2 separate regions of the Homo sapiens genome follow, and region 2 is linked to region 1. The links come from fine-mapping of genetic effects on plasma protein levels. Region 1 holds a variant in brackets. A gene starts in the other region. All regions are shown on their reverse strands.

Region 1 (10,578 bases):
TATTCCATTGTGAATATATACCACCATTTCTTTATCTAGTAGTCCATTGATGGACACTTATTTTGAGTCCATATCGTGGCTATTGTGAATAATGCTGCAATGAACAAGGGAGTAAAGGTATATCTTTGGCATACTAATTTTATTTACTTTGATACATATTCAGTAGTAAGATTGCTGGATTATCTGATAGTCATATTTTTAATTTTTTCAGGAATTACCATATTGCTTTCCATAATAGCTGCACTAATTTATCTTCCCACCAATAGTATACAAGGGTTCCCTTTTCTCCACATCCTCACCAATACCTGTCATTTTTTGCCTTGTTGGTAATAGCCTTTCTAACTGGTGTGAGATGATGTCTCATTGTGGTTTTAATCTACATTTCCTTAATGACTAATGATGTTGAGCATTTTAAGTGTTCTTTATATATTCTAGATTCTAGTCCTTTGTCTGACGTGGTTTAGGAATATTTCCTCCTAGTCTATTGTTTGTCTTTTCACCTTTTACAGAGTATCTCTTTTTTTTTTTTTTTTTTTGAGACGGAGTGTTGCTCTGTCACCCAGGTTGGAGTGCAGTGGCTCGATCTCGGCTCACTGCAAGCTTCGCCTCCCAGGTTCACGCCGCCATTCTCCTGCCTCAGCCTCCCAAGTAGCTGGGACTACAGGCGCCCACCACCACACCCGGCTAATTTTTTGTGTGTTTTTAGTAGAGACGGGGTTTCACCGTGTTAGCCAGGATGGTCTCGATCTCCTGACCTCTTGATCCACCCGTCTCGGCCTCCCAAAGTGCTGGGATTACAGGCGTGAGCCCCCACGCCTGGCCAAGTTTTTGATTTTGATAAAATACAATTTATCATTTTTTTCTCTTTGGGATCATGCTTTTCATGTCAACTCTGAGAACGCTTTGTCTAGTATGATCCATATATTTTCTTCTGTTTTATTTTTAAAATTTTATACCTTTATATTTTATATTTAAATTCATTGCCCATTTTGAGTTAATTTTTGTATAAGGTATGTCAACTAGGTTAAGGCTAATTTTTCTGTGTCCATCTATGGATTTCTTTCTTTCTTTCTTTCTTTTTGAGATGGAGTCTCGCTCTGTCACCCAGGCTGGAGTGCAGGGGTGTGATCTCAGCTCTCTGTAACCTCTGCCTCCCACGTTCAAGTGATTCTCCTGCCTCAGCCTTCCGAGTAGCTGGGATTACAGGCACAGGCCACCACACCTGGCTAATTTTTGTATTTTTAGTAGAGAGGGGGTTTCGCCATGTTGGTCAGGCTGCTCTTGAACCCCTGACCTTGTGATCTGCCCGCCTTGGCCTCCCAAAGTGCTGGGATTATAGGCATGAGCCACCATGCCCGGCCGCATCTATGGATTTCTAATTGCTCTGTTACTATTTGTTGAAATGCTATCATTCTTTCATTGAATTATTTTTGCCCCTTTGTTAAAAATCAATTGAGCATATTTGTGTGAATCTGTTTCTATGTTCTCTATTCTGTTCCATTTATCTCTAAGGCTAGGCTTCCACCAGTAACATGCAATCTTGATTGTTGTAGTTACGTAATGCCTTGAAATTGGGTAAAATTGCTCCTTTCATTTTACTTGACTTTTTCAAAAATTAATTTAAATACCTTATTTTTTATCCATTTTCAGACAAATTTTAGAACAGTCTTGTGTATGTCTATAAAAAAATCTTACTGAGATTTTTATATGTCTGTATAGCAATTTGGGGAGAATTTTTATCTTTACTATGGCTGAGTCTTTCGATCTATACATCCATTATGTCTTTCCCTTTATTTAGAGCTTTGATTGCTTTCAGTATTTTGTGGTTGTCAGCATACAATCTTGCACATGTCTCGAAAGCTTTACTCTTAAAGTTTTTTTAAAAAAACTTTTTACTGATGGTGAATTGTATTTTTAAGTCCTCATGTGTTCTTTGCTAGGTCATATAAATACAATTAATTTGTGCATGTTTACCTTATATCCTGCAAGTTTACCTTATATCCTGCAAGTTTGATAAACTAACTTATTATTCTTAGGAGGATTTTTATTTTGTAGACTCCTTGAGTTTTTCCATGTGGATAATCGTATCACCTGTAAATAAGAACATTTCTTTCTAGATCTGTAAGTCTTTTATTTTCTTGTTCACTGGCTAGACCATCCAGCCTATGTTGAATAGGGTGATGAGAAAAGATATCCTTAACTTGCCATAGGGAGAAACATTTAGCCTTTCAACATTAAGTATAATGTTAGCTGTAAGAAGTTTTTTGTGTCTTTTTAAAGATACATCTTATCAATTTGAAAAAATTTTTCTGTATCCTTTTTTTCTGAGGGTTATGAATTAGTATTGAGTTTTGTCAAATGCTTTTTCTCCATTGATTGTTATGATCATGTACATTTTTCATCCTTAGTTTGTTAATAGGGTGTATTACAGTGACTGGTTTTCAAATATTGAACCAGCCTCACATACCTGGTATATGCCATATTTGGTGATGGTGTACAATTCCTTTTATATATTGCTGACTTCTACTTGTTAATTTTTTTAAGGATTTTTGCATATATTCATGACAGGTGTTGGTGCTTAGTTTTCTTTTCCTTTCTCTCTCCTTCTTCACGGTTGTCTTCATCTATGTTGGTGTCAAGATAATCCTAACCTCATTAAAGCAATTGAGAAAGGTTTCCTCCTCTTCTTTACTGAATAGACTGTGTATAATTGGTATTAATTCTTCTTTTAAAAGTTTGGTAGAATTGACAAGTAAAACCATTTGGGCCTGGAGATTTCTTTATTTTTTTTCTTGAGAATTTAAAAATCATAAATCCATTTTCTTTAAGAGTTATGGAGCTAGCAAAATATCAGAATTATCTTTTTCATACTGGTGAATTGTCATAGTTGGTGTTTATTGTAATTTGTGTTTTTTGAGGCATTAACCTATTTCATCTAAGTCATCAAATGCATACAATTGTTCATAGTTTCCTCTCATTATGTTTATAATGTCTGCAGGGTTTGTAGTGATATCTCCTAACTCATTTTTCAGATTAGTAACTTTTGTCTTTTCATCTTGCAAATCAAAAATGCAGCCGAGAGAATCTTTACTCAATGAATCACTGGTGCTTGAAGTTGAAAACCTTGTGTTTGGCCAGACATGGTGGCTCATGCTTGTAATCCCAGCACTTTGGGAGGCCAAGGTGGGTAGATATCTTGAGGTCAGGAGTTCGCAACCAGCCTGGCCAACATGGTGAAACCCTGTCTCTACTAAAAATAAAAAAATTAGCCAGGCGTGGTAGTGAGTGCCTTTAATCCCAGCTACTCAGGAGGTTGAGGCAGGAGAATAGCTTGAACCTGAGAGGTGGAGATTGCAGTAAGCTGAGACTACACCACTGCGCTCCAGCCTGGGTGACAGAGCAAGACTCTATCTAAAAAAAAAAAAAAATTCTTGTGTTTGTGTATCACTTTCACACCAGTGTAATGTTGAAATATGATAAGTTGAACCATTATTAAGTCATGGATCACTTGTATTTTCATTTTCATTCAGTTCATTGTGTATTTTTCCTTTGAGATTTCCTTCTTCACATTTAGATTCCTTAGAAATGTATTGTTCAGTTTGCAATAACGTATATTTTGCAGCTGTTGGTGGAGTTTTTTTAATAAGTATTGATTAGACACTGTTGCTTGATGGTGTCTTTATATTTCCTTGCTGATTTCTCTTTAGTTGGAGTATCAGTTGTTGAGAGGGGTGTTAATATTTTCAATTAAAGTGTAAATTGGTCTGTTTTTCCATTTTAATTTTTTCAGTTTTAGATTCACATATTTTGCAGCTCTGTTGTCTGATGCATATACATTTAGGATTGCTATGTTTTATTGGTTTATTGAACCTCCTATCATTATACAGTTCCCTTTCTATCTTGGATTTATTTCTTTATCTGATATCAACATAGCAGTCCTTTGTTTCCATTAATATTTTCTTAATATATATTTTTCTTTTTTTTACTATTAACTTACCCGTAGTCTTAGATTTAGATTTTTTTTTGTAGACAGTAAATGATTGTGTCATTTTTATTAATCTAATCTGCCAATTTTCATCTTTTGATTGGTTATGTCTTAGTCCATTTTGTGATATTATAACAGGGTACTCAAGACTGGGTAATTTAGAAACAATAGAGGTTTATTTGGTTCATGGTTCTGGAGGCTGGAAAGTCCAAGAGCATGGCATGAGCATCTGATGAAAGCCTTCATATTGGGTCATCCCATAGCAGAAGTTATCTTGCGATAACTTACCCATTCCTGTGATAATCACATTAATCTATTCCTGAGGGTAGAGCCTTCATAACCTAATCACCTCTTTAAGATCCAACTCCCAACACTGTTACATTATGGATTAAGTTTCCAAACATGAACTTTAGATGACACACTAAACCACAGCAGTATATTTAGATCATTTGCATTTAAAGTAATTATTAATATGTTAGAGCTTCATTCTGTCATTTAATGTTTTTTTATCTATTTGGTCTCTCTGTTTTTTGTTTTGTAGTTTTCTTATTTCTGGCCTCTTGTGGTTTTCTTGAATATTTTTAAAAATTCATTTTTCATTCATTTGTAGGGGGTTTGAGTACATTTCTTTGTGGAAACTCTTTAGAGATTCCTCTAGATATTGAATTATATGTATGTAACTTATCACAGTTTACTGGTTGTGATTTTACCAGTTCAAGTGAGGAGTAGAAATCCTATCTCCCTTTAAATTGTTTTATCCTGTTCTGCTTATAATCATCCTAAATATTTCCTCTCTATATATTTAGAACTACATGAGACAACGTTATAAATTTTACTTCAACAGTCAGATAATTTATATATCATAAAAAGAAAAGGAAAGTGTATAATATTTACCCATTTTTTAATTATGTTGTTTCTTTTTTACTCATGTCCTAAGATTCTTACTTGTATTTTGTTGTTGTTGTTTTGCTTAATGAACTCTCTTGACCCATTATTTTAGAGCAGGTCTGCTGGTGACAAGTTCTCTTCATCTTTTTTCATCTGAGAATGTGTAGATTTCCCCTTCATTCCCAGAGGATGTTTTTTTCTGGGCATAAGACTCTGGGTTAATAGCTCTTTACTTTACTTGAAAAATGGTGTGCTACTTGCTTCTGGCCTCCATGGTTTCTGATGAGAAATCCACTGTCCTTTCACATGTTTTCTTCTATGGGTAAGATATAATTTCTCTCTTATTGCTCTT[G/A]TGATTTTTTTTCTGCACCTTTGGTTTTCAGAAGTTTAATTATATCTGTCCTGGATCTTGTTTTTTGATCCACTTTGAAAATCTCCTTCTTATAATTGATATATTTAAACCATTGACATTGAAAGTGATTGCTAATATAGTTGGATTGACAGCTACCATATTTGTTACTGTTTTCTAATTGTCGCCCTTCTTCTTTGTTCCCATTTATGTCTTTTACTCTTTTTCTGCATTTCGTGGTTTGAACTTAACATTTTAATATGACTCCATTTTCACTCTTTCCTTAGCATGTCAGTTATTCTTTTTTTTTTTCTTTTTACCTTTGTTTAGTGGGTGCCCTAAAGTTTGCAATATACATTTACAACTACTGCTTCATGTATAGTGTGAATATCTTATAATAACAAAAAATTGTAATTACTCCCTCTTGTCCCTTGTATAACTGATGTCATTCATATAAATACATATATGTTTATGAATAGATAAATAGATCTATACATATATGCATAGATACATAAGCATCTGTAATTGAATATATTATTGCTATTATTATTTTGAACAAAATATTTGTTAGATCAGTTAAGAATAAGAAAAAACAATTTTATTTGCTTATTTTTTCTTTGGTGTTCTTTTCTTTGTATAGATCTGTTTCTATCCTACATAATCTTCTTTCTCTAAATAACTTATTGTAAAATTTCTTGCAAAGCAGGTCTACTGGCAACAAATTCTCTCAATTTTGTTCATCTCAGAAAGCCTTTCTATCTCCTTCACTTAAAAAAAAATTCTATAGAGTACCTAATTCTAAGTTGGTAGCTTCTTTCTCTCAACACTTTATCTAACTCCACTCTCTCCTTACTTGTATGATTAGTGAGGAAAGGCTGGATGTAATTCCTATCTTGTCCCTCTCTCATTGGGAGGGACAGGAGTGCCTTGCTATTTCTTCATTCATGACCTCCACTGATACCACAGGGTAGAGGATGGACCAATTTTTGCCAGGTAATGATGAAAATCTTGAGTCTTTATTAGGCCTTCTTTTGACCTCCTCAGTGGGGAGTGGGAGGAGCACCTTTCATTACTATTCTTTCAGAGTAAAAGTCCAGGCTCTCCATGTGTTCTCCCCTGACACCAAGGGGAAGGCAAGACTTATGACTGCCTGATGGAGATGAAACTCTTGGTCTCCTACTCAACCTTCTTTGACATCACCCCAGAAAAAGATCTGGGCTCCGTGATTACATCCAGGTTGAAGTTTAGGCTTCCCACCTGTCTTTGCTTGTGAGACGAGGGGCAGAGGCATATTATTTTCTGTGAGTTTTTACTGGAGTATAATATCTATTGTCTAAAAGTGTGTTTGTTTTGTTTTTGTTTTTGTTTGTTGTTGTTTGTTTTTTTGTTTTCTGGGTAGGTTGCCCCTTTCCTGGACTTTTGGCTAGAGAGAGTGGGCTTTTATTTTGGCCCCTTTTGCCTGTATTCATTGGCATTTCTGGATTGCTAGCTTCTTCAGCCCCAAGTCTGGGACATATGAGACACAAAGAAAAGTGAGGGAACTCACTTCTTTCTGGTTTCTTGGGTCCTAAGTTTCATAGCCAGTCTGCCTTTTTCTCTCTACCTTTCAGAGTCTTCTCATGCTTGCATTATACATAATGTGCAGGATTTTTCATTGAGCTTAGAAGGAAAAGGAAAAAGTACATTCACTCCATCTCAGAAGTGGAAATCTCTTTTATTCCTTTGGATCCAGAGATACATGAACAAAAAATATTGAATTGTGTTATTATATAGATATTGTTAAATTCAAGACTAGAAAAATATCTTCTGGCCTCACATCTTCAAATTTTACTTCCTCAAATTCTCAAATCCTGACACTTATCCCAAATTTATGTACCACAGATACAAATATCTGATAGACATATTTACCTGGATGACCCATCACCACCTGAAAGGCATCACAGTTAACTAGGATAAACATCTAAAACTGAGCTCAGTATTTCCTTTCTATCTTCAGATCACAGTGATTTATTTTCTTGATATTTCATTTTCTGTTCTTAGTGCTACTCTTCTACCACACACTCAGCCTCAAAAGTCAGATCAAATCTCAGTGATATCCCCCTTGAATTTCTCCGTACACTTATGCATGGCTTTATATTTATAGTGCCACCACATTAGTTAAGATTCTTTGTCATCTAAATATTTATGTCACTCTCAGGTACCTGTTCTGATTCACTTTACAACATATTAGTCTTCATAAGTCAAATAATCAGCCAGTGGCCTTCTTATCTCCAAATGTTTAATTGTTTTGATCTTTTGAGGATCATTAAAAAACTCTTCTGCAAAGAGAAGAGTTTCTCTGATCCTTGTAGCTATAGGAGAGCACCACTGCCAACCATAATTCTGAAAGACACAGTCCCAAATGCCATAATTCCAAATGTTGCAATTCCAAAAGATTAAAATCTCTAACATCTAAATTCCCTAATATCTAAAATCTCAAGAATCAGAATCTCAAATTGTTAAAATCTCAAATATCAAAATCCTGAAAGTCAAATTATAAGAAAGGGTTTCCTTGAGGTTGTAACTGTGTGTAGGATACTGGCTTCATATTGGTGGCATCATAGTAGGCAGAACTGTTGCTTTCTTATTGCATTTGGTGGAAAATTCAGATGAGTAAATTGCATTTGGTGGAAAATTCAGATGAGTAAATTGGCCACAATGGCAATGACAAAAATATCAGCTTAAAAATGTGTCACTTGTCTACACTGACATCCCTTTCAGTTGATAAAAATTCAGGAGCTTTTATTGAATTAAAGCCACATTTGCCTGAAGAAGTCAGCAAAGTCACTGACTGGTTAGAAAATAATTATGTCCACAGTAGGATAAAAAGGTTTTAACACAATTTTTGCTGTTTGATTACTTGTACTGTTTCTGCCGAATTTGGGGTCTCTATATAAGTACATGGGAAATGGATTCCTGTATACCCCAAACTACATAGAACCATGACGCAGAAGACAGGAAAATTTAATAGGGAATGCTCATGTTGGTATATATTGAATCGTAGAAGAATTTCATAAAGAATAGCGTCATGTAGAAAATGAATGTGAATATATTCTCCCAGGAAAGCCATGCCCTCAAAGATAAAAAGCAGCTATTCATTGCAATGCAAGACTTATTAATCATAGTTAATGATTATCAAGGCTGGCCAGCCCTTAGGGACTACCTTCATGAAATTGTTCCTAATCTATCCCTGTGATATGCATTTACATATGTCAGATTTTATTTTTAGCCAGTTTTAGGGTTTTTTGTTTTGTTTTTTTTCCTGTTATCCCCGCTATTTTAAGTTGTTAGCATTATTTTGTATAACTTTTATGCTATGTATTTCATCTTCACACCATTTCCAATACTGGTATATATTTTGTAAAGACTCTTGAGAGTTCTAAATCATTTATTCTGTTTTTGGCAAATTTGACTCCATAAAAGTACAGTATGAGAACACTGACTTTGTGTATAAGCATTGTGCACGTATGTAAAAACATTGCCACATGCTAGATAAATGAAGAGATGTCCTTTTTGTACATCTGCGTTTGTGAAAAACAAAATTTCTTGAGATCTTGGCTCTTTGGGCAACTGCATATGCAATGATGACCTATCTTTTTTTTCAATTGATCTTGTCAAGAGACTTAGGATGTCTATCATGGTATCTCAGATGATCACAATTATAAAGCTGGGGGAACATAATTAACAACCATAATGATAGGTGTTTATACATTTTGCTCTGAGTTAATAAATAAGACAAAAGAAAATAATTTGCAAAGTTTTTCTTTCTTCGTTTACTGTCATTTCTGTCTCTTTAGTCTCTTTAAAGTGATAATACTCAACCCAAAAGATTTACAAATATATTAAACTACATGACAGGATATTTATCAAATGAATAAAATGCCCTCCCATTCCCCAAATGCCCATCAATGATAGACCTTATCCCAAATGAATAAAGAAAATGTGGCACATATATACCATGGAATACTATGCAGCCATTAAAAAGGATGAGTTCATGTCCTTTGCAGGAACATGGATGAAGCTGGAAACCATCATTCTCAGCAAACTAACACAGGAACAGAAAACCAAACACTGCATGTTCTCACTGATAAGTGGGAGTTGAACAATGAGAACACATGGACACAGGGAGGGGAACATCACACACTGGGGCTTGTTGTGCGGTGAGGGTGTAGACGAGGGATAGCATTAGGAGAAATACGTAATGTAGATGACGGGTTGATGGGTGCAGCAAACCACCATGGCACGTGTATACCTATGTAACAAACCTACACATTCTGCATATGTATCCCAGAACTTAAAGTATAAATTTAAAAAAATTGCCTAATAGAAATGAGGAAGGCAAAATCTAAAAATATCTCTTCTTTCGTCAGTGAAAAGGGCAAGTATATTTCTGTCCCTCTAAGGTATGAATGGAGCATGAAGTCTGAGATGATGTAATCAGTGACAAAGAACATCATCATCCAACTCACTGGGTTCCAAGTTGTCTCTAGGCAACCACAATATAGCCACATTAATATATCAATCAAAATATGTAATTTTAGAAGAGCACATAACCTTTAAAGAGAGTAGCAGACAAGGTTTTTGCTCAACAGTGACTCATCTTAGTAGATGACTTCTTTTTTGGATTCAACCAAGGAACTCTGAGTAAGTTTGCTTTGCCACGTCCCAAAGAAACCAGGGGTAATTCTCATTCAGCCTTTGCTGTGAACAGACACTATCGGGTCACCTAAGAAATAGCAATTTGTGGGTTCCTGCTTTATGCAATGATGATCTTGGCTTGCGCAACCCAAATAGAATGTGCCCCAACTCATGAAGTCAAGGCAATGTGGTAAACAGAACCTGTGCCAGCAGGACATCATTTCAACACCCCCTGGCATATAAAGCATGTTTGGGCAGGGGCATACACATCATAAACTCTATTTTGGTATGGACAACCTGGGAACTCAGTGATGACTATGTCATAGAACCATTAGCTTCATAGAGACAGCCTCTGATGTTACTTTAAGTTAGCCACTTATTAAACTCCTGAAAAGTCTCTGGAACAAATTATATTAAGACATGAGCAATGTTTAAAATCATCTAGAAACAAAGTAGATGTAAAGTGTTAGATGAAGGGGCTTAAATAAAGCATTTGTATGATATTGTCATTGTGGCGATGATGGTTGGCTTCTAATACAAGGTCTCCTCCGCAGTCCTGTCCACTTCCATAAAATCTACCTAAAAATATCCAGAATTGCCTTTCAGGTGTCGATAAACTCTTGCAATATTTGGTACTCTGCTACTGGATATTGCTTTGTAACAATTAGAATTATTTGAC
Region 2 (5,254 bases), not on the chromosome of region 1:
CATAGAGAGGTGGGGCCTAGGCCCCAGCTTGTGGCCGACCCCGCCCATCCTCGAGCAGGTACCAGGGCCACGTGGGTGCATCGCTGATCGTGGGCGGCGTAGACCTGACTGGACCGCAGCTCTACGGTGTGCATCCCCATGGCTCCTACAGCCGTCTGCCCTTCACAGCCCTGGGTGAGCGCTTCTGTCCCTTCTCCTCGAACTCTGCCCCTGTGACCTTGGCCTCACTCCAAACGGCGTCGCAGCGGTTGACTTCAGATGCTTCTCCTGCCTTCAGGCTCTGGTCAGGACGCGGCCCTGGCGGTGCTAGAAGACCGGTTCCAGCCGAACATGACGGTGAGCGGCCTCTGTCCCCGACTTTGTGGTCGCTGGTGGGATGTGCACCCGGGAGCTGGGGGAGCACAGGACCCTGGCCCAGTGCGGGTGGCTAAGGCTTGTCGGAGGAGGTGACCACTGAAGGGTGAGTGGAGTAAGGGCAGAGAAGTGCGGTCCCGACATAACACCGTCCAATACCAAAGCCTGCACGGCTGGGAGAAGTCGAAGCTCACAGAGGATCTTTAGGAGCCGAGGGCGGAGAGAAGGACCAGTAGGGTCCTACTTATATCAACGTCTGGAGCCTAGATTTTGTTTGGGGTGGGATGGAAGCAGGTGATGTTGCCTCAGAGGTGGCTAAGGCTCAGAGGGAGAAACACAGTGGGGGTTTGGAGGGCAAGACCAGATTGGGTAAGTGGACAGGCAAGTCCCCAGGCTGTAGCCTAAGTTAACAGCAGAGAGAGCCCGTTAGGTCTCACACACCCATCACCGCAGCTGGAGGCTGCTCAGGGGCTGCTGGTGGAAGCCGTCACCGCCGGGATCTTGGGTGACCTGGGCTCCGGGGGCAATGTGGACGCATGTGTGATCACAAAGACTGGCGCCAAGCTGCTGCGGACACTGAGCTCACCCACAGAGCCCGTGAAGAGGTGAGAGCTGGAGATCGGGGACCACAGGGATGTGTGGGGCTATAGCAGGGGAGATAGGGGGCTGCAAAAAGGGGATGGGCCACATGACAGGCCCATGTTCAGAGGCTGTCCCTCCTCCCTCCCAGGTCTGGCCGCTACCACTTTGTGCCTGGAACCACAGCTGTCCTGACCCAGACAGTGAAGCCACTAACCCTGGAGCTAGTGGAGGAAACTGTGCAGGCTATGGAGGTGGAGTAAGCTGAGGCTTAGAGCTTGGAACAAGGGGGAATAAACCCAGAAAATACAGTTAAACAGATGGCTGTGTCATTCTTGAGTGGAATGGGGTGGGCAGGCAGCCAGCAGGGCTCTGTAGCTAAGGCGTCCCTGCAGGGGCCATTACCTACCATAGCTCTAGTGTCTGGCCTAAGAGATGCCCTTCACCCATAACCTCAGGCACCTACAACTCCAGAACCCCAGCCCTGGCCAGCATTGCAGGCTTGGTCTCCACCCAAACCTTCCTTCTGACTCCACACTTGAAGGCTCCCCCACCACTCCACTGTCTTGCTCTTGCCCTCTAGTCCACTGGAGACTTGTAAATTATGAAATACCCCATGTACTACCCCCTCCTAGAGACTTTCCATGGCTCCTCAGTGGCCCAGGACAAAGCTCATACCTTTCAATCAGGCCCCCACAGGCCCCACTGAGGGCTAAAGTGCTGACAAGAGGAGCCGCTCCCTGACTCCAAGGCAAGTTCTCACCAAGCACTCCTCAACCTCGCAACATCTTTACCTGTGACACCCCTTAGATGACGAGGCATGCCTGCACTGCTCACGTGAAGCTCGTCTTCTGTCTGCACATGCTGGGCTTGTGACTCCAAGTTTTCCAGGCTAATAAGGGTCACAGGACTCACATGGGGAGAGATGACACGTTTCTCCAACAAACCTTTGCTGGGCCCCTGCTGAGTCTCAGGCCTGGCTGCTGGGTGCCAGCAAGAGCATCCTGTCCTCAGCGAGAACGGCTGAACTCCGCTGGAGCTTCAGAAATGTCAGGGAGAGTCTACCCAGGGCCCAGGGAGGGTCTATGCCGGGCTGCACATCCCCAGGCCGCTGAGTGTGCTCCCTGCACCCCAACATTCTATTAATGAACATTTGTAAATGTAACAGAAAAGTAGAAAGAGTTGTATATTGAATACCCTTATACTGTCAGGTCACCACAGACCTGACAGTATTTTGTTATATTTGTTTTATCATCTATTCATCCCTCTATCCATTAATTCATCGCTCCTTTTTTTTTTTTTTTTTTTTTTTTTGAGACGGCGTCTCGCTCTGTCACCCAGGCTCTGGAGTGCAAATATTTTGTTATATTTGTTTTATCATCTATTCATCCCTCTATCCATTAATTCATCGCTCCTTTTTTTTTTTTTTTTTTTTGAGACGGAGTCTCGCTCTGTCACCCAGGCTCTGGAGTGCAGTGGCGCAATCTCAGCTCACTGGAAGCTCCGCCTCCCAGGTTCACGCCATTCTCCTGCCTCAGCCTCCCGAGTAGCTGGGACTACAGGTGCCCGCCACCACGCCCGGCTAATTTTTTTTTTTTTTGTATTTTTAGTAGAGACGAGGTTTCTACTGAACCTGTTAGCCAGGATGGTCTTGATCTCCTGACCTCATGATCCGCCCGCGTCGGCCTCCCAAAGTGCTGGGATTACAGGCGTGAGCCACCGTGCCCAGCCAATTCATCTCATTTTTTGGCTGATGCTGTTTCTTTGAGATGGGGTCTAGCTCCATCGCCCAGGCCGGAATGCAGTGGTGCACTCATGGCTCACTGCAGCCTTGAACTTAAGGGCTCAAGTGATCCCTCCTGCCTCAGCCTTCTGAGTTGCTGGGACTACAGGTGTGTACCATCATACCCAGCTCATTTCTTAATTTAAAAAAATTTTTTTTGTAGAGACAGGGTTTCATGATGTTGCTCAGGCTGGTCTCGAACTCCTGGAATCAAGCCTCCTACGTCTGCCTCCCAAAGTTTTGGGATTACAGGTGTGAGCCACCACACCCAGCCCTGATCTGTTCTTGAATCAGTTAAAGCCCTCACACTCCCAGAAGGCCGCCAGCCAATGCACCTGTTGGAACTTTGCACACAGGGTGTCTTCTCCCTTCAAGCTTGGTCTGCAGCTCAGTAACAAATGGGCTACAGACACCAGGGGCTTGCCCATGGGAGCCCCAAGGCCTAAAGAGGGTGGCAGAGATTTGATGTCTGTCACTCTCCACCTGCAGCCTCAGTCCACGGTCGGCCAGGCACCAAGAGCTCACACTTTGCCCTCCTAAATGCCAGGCCCTTCATAAGTATCATCTCATTGTTAAGAGCGGAGGCTTCAGCGCCAGACAAATGCGAGTTTGTGTACAACTCAACCACGTGCTGGTGGGAGAGTCACCATCTCTGAGCAGACCTGTGACTCCTGTTCCAAATGGACGAGGAACCACTGCGATGATGTGTTAGGACTCCCAGCCTGCCAGAACCTCACAGCCCCTGGCCCTTCACAGCAAAGTTGACCGCAGTGAGCATTCCATCCACCAGTCAGAACACCCTGGACGCTGAGCGGCCTTCTCTGAAAGCCTGGTGCCTTTGTTAGCCCTGGGTGACTCCTGTGATCCCAGCCACCAGGTTGTCACTATAGACCTAATTTAACCATCTGTCCTCAGTACCGAGGGCTCAACATTTGGAATGGGAGGTGGTTCTGGGAGCCAATTAGAGGCCAGGCTTTGGGAGGTGGCAGAGGTGAGTCTCACACCTGGGCTCTGTCTGATAAGTCTAGGTCTCGGTCAGGGGACCTTGGCCTAAAGGGCCTGTCTTGCCTGGAGCGTGGGAGGGGGCTGAGTCTACACAGCTGGCCTGGCCTCAGGCCTGGAGCTTTAGCTCAAGGACGAGAAGACCCATAAAGCCAGACCCAGCTCCCAACCTCACATCTGCCACGATGTTGCTGCTCAGCCTGACCCTAAGCCTGGTTCTCCTCGGCTCCTCCTGGGGTGAGTGGGCCAGGACCAGCCCTGATTCAGCCCTGGGAGCAACTCAGCTCCCAGCAACAGCCCAGGGAAGGAGCTAGGCTGGCTGGAAGGGACGAAGGTGGACAGAGTGGGCAAAAGAAACAGGATATGCCAGGGCAGTGGAGCAGGGAACAGGCCTGCAGGGCTGGGAGGGGGCAAGAGGTGGGGTGGTCTCACAAATAGGACCAGAGATTGAGCCAGGCCCTGGAGCCCGGGAGGGTTTAGGAAGCTGAGACAGGAAGACCTGTCCATGTCTTTTAGAAAGAACCTTCTGGCTGCATGAAGGGTATGAACTGTTCAGGTCGGGAGGGGGCAGAGAGACCAGGGGTAGAGATGGGGAACAGCGGGGACTAGGCTGGAGACAGATGTAGGAGAACAGCAGGGCTGGGGGACTGGGTGGATAGGGATAACCAAGATAGCTGTGGGGCCCGAAGGTGCTTGCATGTACCCTGTTGGGGAAGGGGTAGTGCTGTACCCTCTCGACAGACCTCTCTGGGGTGCACAGCCTGGGGCACCCAAAAGGAGGTGGGGAAAGATGGGCTGAGGCATGGGAAGCAGGTCCTCATTAGCCCAATGGCCAGGCTGCGGCATTCCTGCCATCAAACCGGCACTGAGCTTCAGCCAGAGGATTGTCAACGGGGAGAATGCAGTGTTGGGCTCCTGGCCCTGGCAGGTGTCCCTGCAGGTACACCACCAGAGGGGTGGGCAGGGTCCTGGGTACGTCATGCCTAGGGGCAGCCTCAGCAGCCCACCCCCACTCTGACCTCTGAGCCCTGACCACAGGACAGCAGCGGCTTCCACTTCTGCGGTGGTTCTCTCATCAGCCAGTCCTGGGTGGTCACTGCTGCCCACTGCAATGTCAGGTGAGTGCCTGCATTCCACCTGCCCCGCCCCTCGCCTCTTCCTGCCTCCTCCCCTGGCTGTCCCCCTCTCGCGCTGGCCTCCCTGCAGCTGCCTAATCCCACCCCCTTGCAGCCCTGGCCGCCATTTTGTTGTCCTGGGCGAGTATGACCGATCATCAAACGCAGAGCCCTTGCAGGTTCTGTCCGTCTCTCGGGTGAGTGCCTGGGCTGCAGACACGGAGGAAAAGTGGGCAGTGCAGGTGGGTGGGTGCTGGGAACGAGGAATTCAGGACATGCCCTGGCCTACCCTGCTCAGCACCCATCAGAACATGGACTGTTTCTGACCCCACAGGCCATTACACACCCTAGCTGGAACTCTACCACCATGAACAATGACGTGACGCTGCTGAAGCTCGCCTCGCCAGCCCAGTACACAACA

Alleles and levels. Alleles are on the strand shown, and positions count from the first base shown. The strength of an association depends on the size of the effect and on how common the allele is.
As copies of A replace G in region 1, the plasma level of the protein whose gene starts at base 3,894 in region 2 goes up (weak association).

What was found. A credible set is the group of variants that fine-mapping cannot tell apart. PIP is the chance, under the fine-mapping model, that this variant and not a neighbour inherited with it causes the effect. Protein levels are from antibody-based Olink assays in UK Biobank. Linkage for the fine-mapping came from a reference panel and not from the study's own genotypes, which makes the PIPs less certain.
Region 2: CTRL starts here. The variant in region 1 is the best candidate, but not a certain one, in a credible set for the plasma level of the CTRL protein (UK Biobank, PIP 0.68).

The regions. Positions count from the first base shown.
Region 1 is chr17:71,207,759-71,218,336 of GRCh38, reverse strand. No RefSeq gene overlaps it. Among named protein-coding and RNA genes, the nearest start is that of CASC17, 11 kb to the right of the region's middle. The variant G/A (reference allele first, on the strand shown) is at 5,226.
Region 2 is chr16:67,930,502-67,935,755 of GRCh38, reverse strand. CTRL (chymotrypsin like) reads left to right here and starts at 3,894. Exons shown (of 7, transcript NM_001907.3): 1 at 3,894-3,955; 2 at 4,555-4,658; 3 at 4,757-4,836; 4 at 4,949-5,030; 5 at 5,168-5,254. The coding sequence starts at 3,904. It overlaps PSMB10 (proteasome 20S subunit beta 10), which reads left to right. Exons shown (of 8, transcript NM_002801.4): 5 at 59-174; 6 at 278-336; 7 at 808-959; 8 at 1,085-1,250. The coding sequence ends at 1,196. RefSeq lists enhancers at 137-336, 4,403-4,919, 4,920-5,254.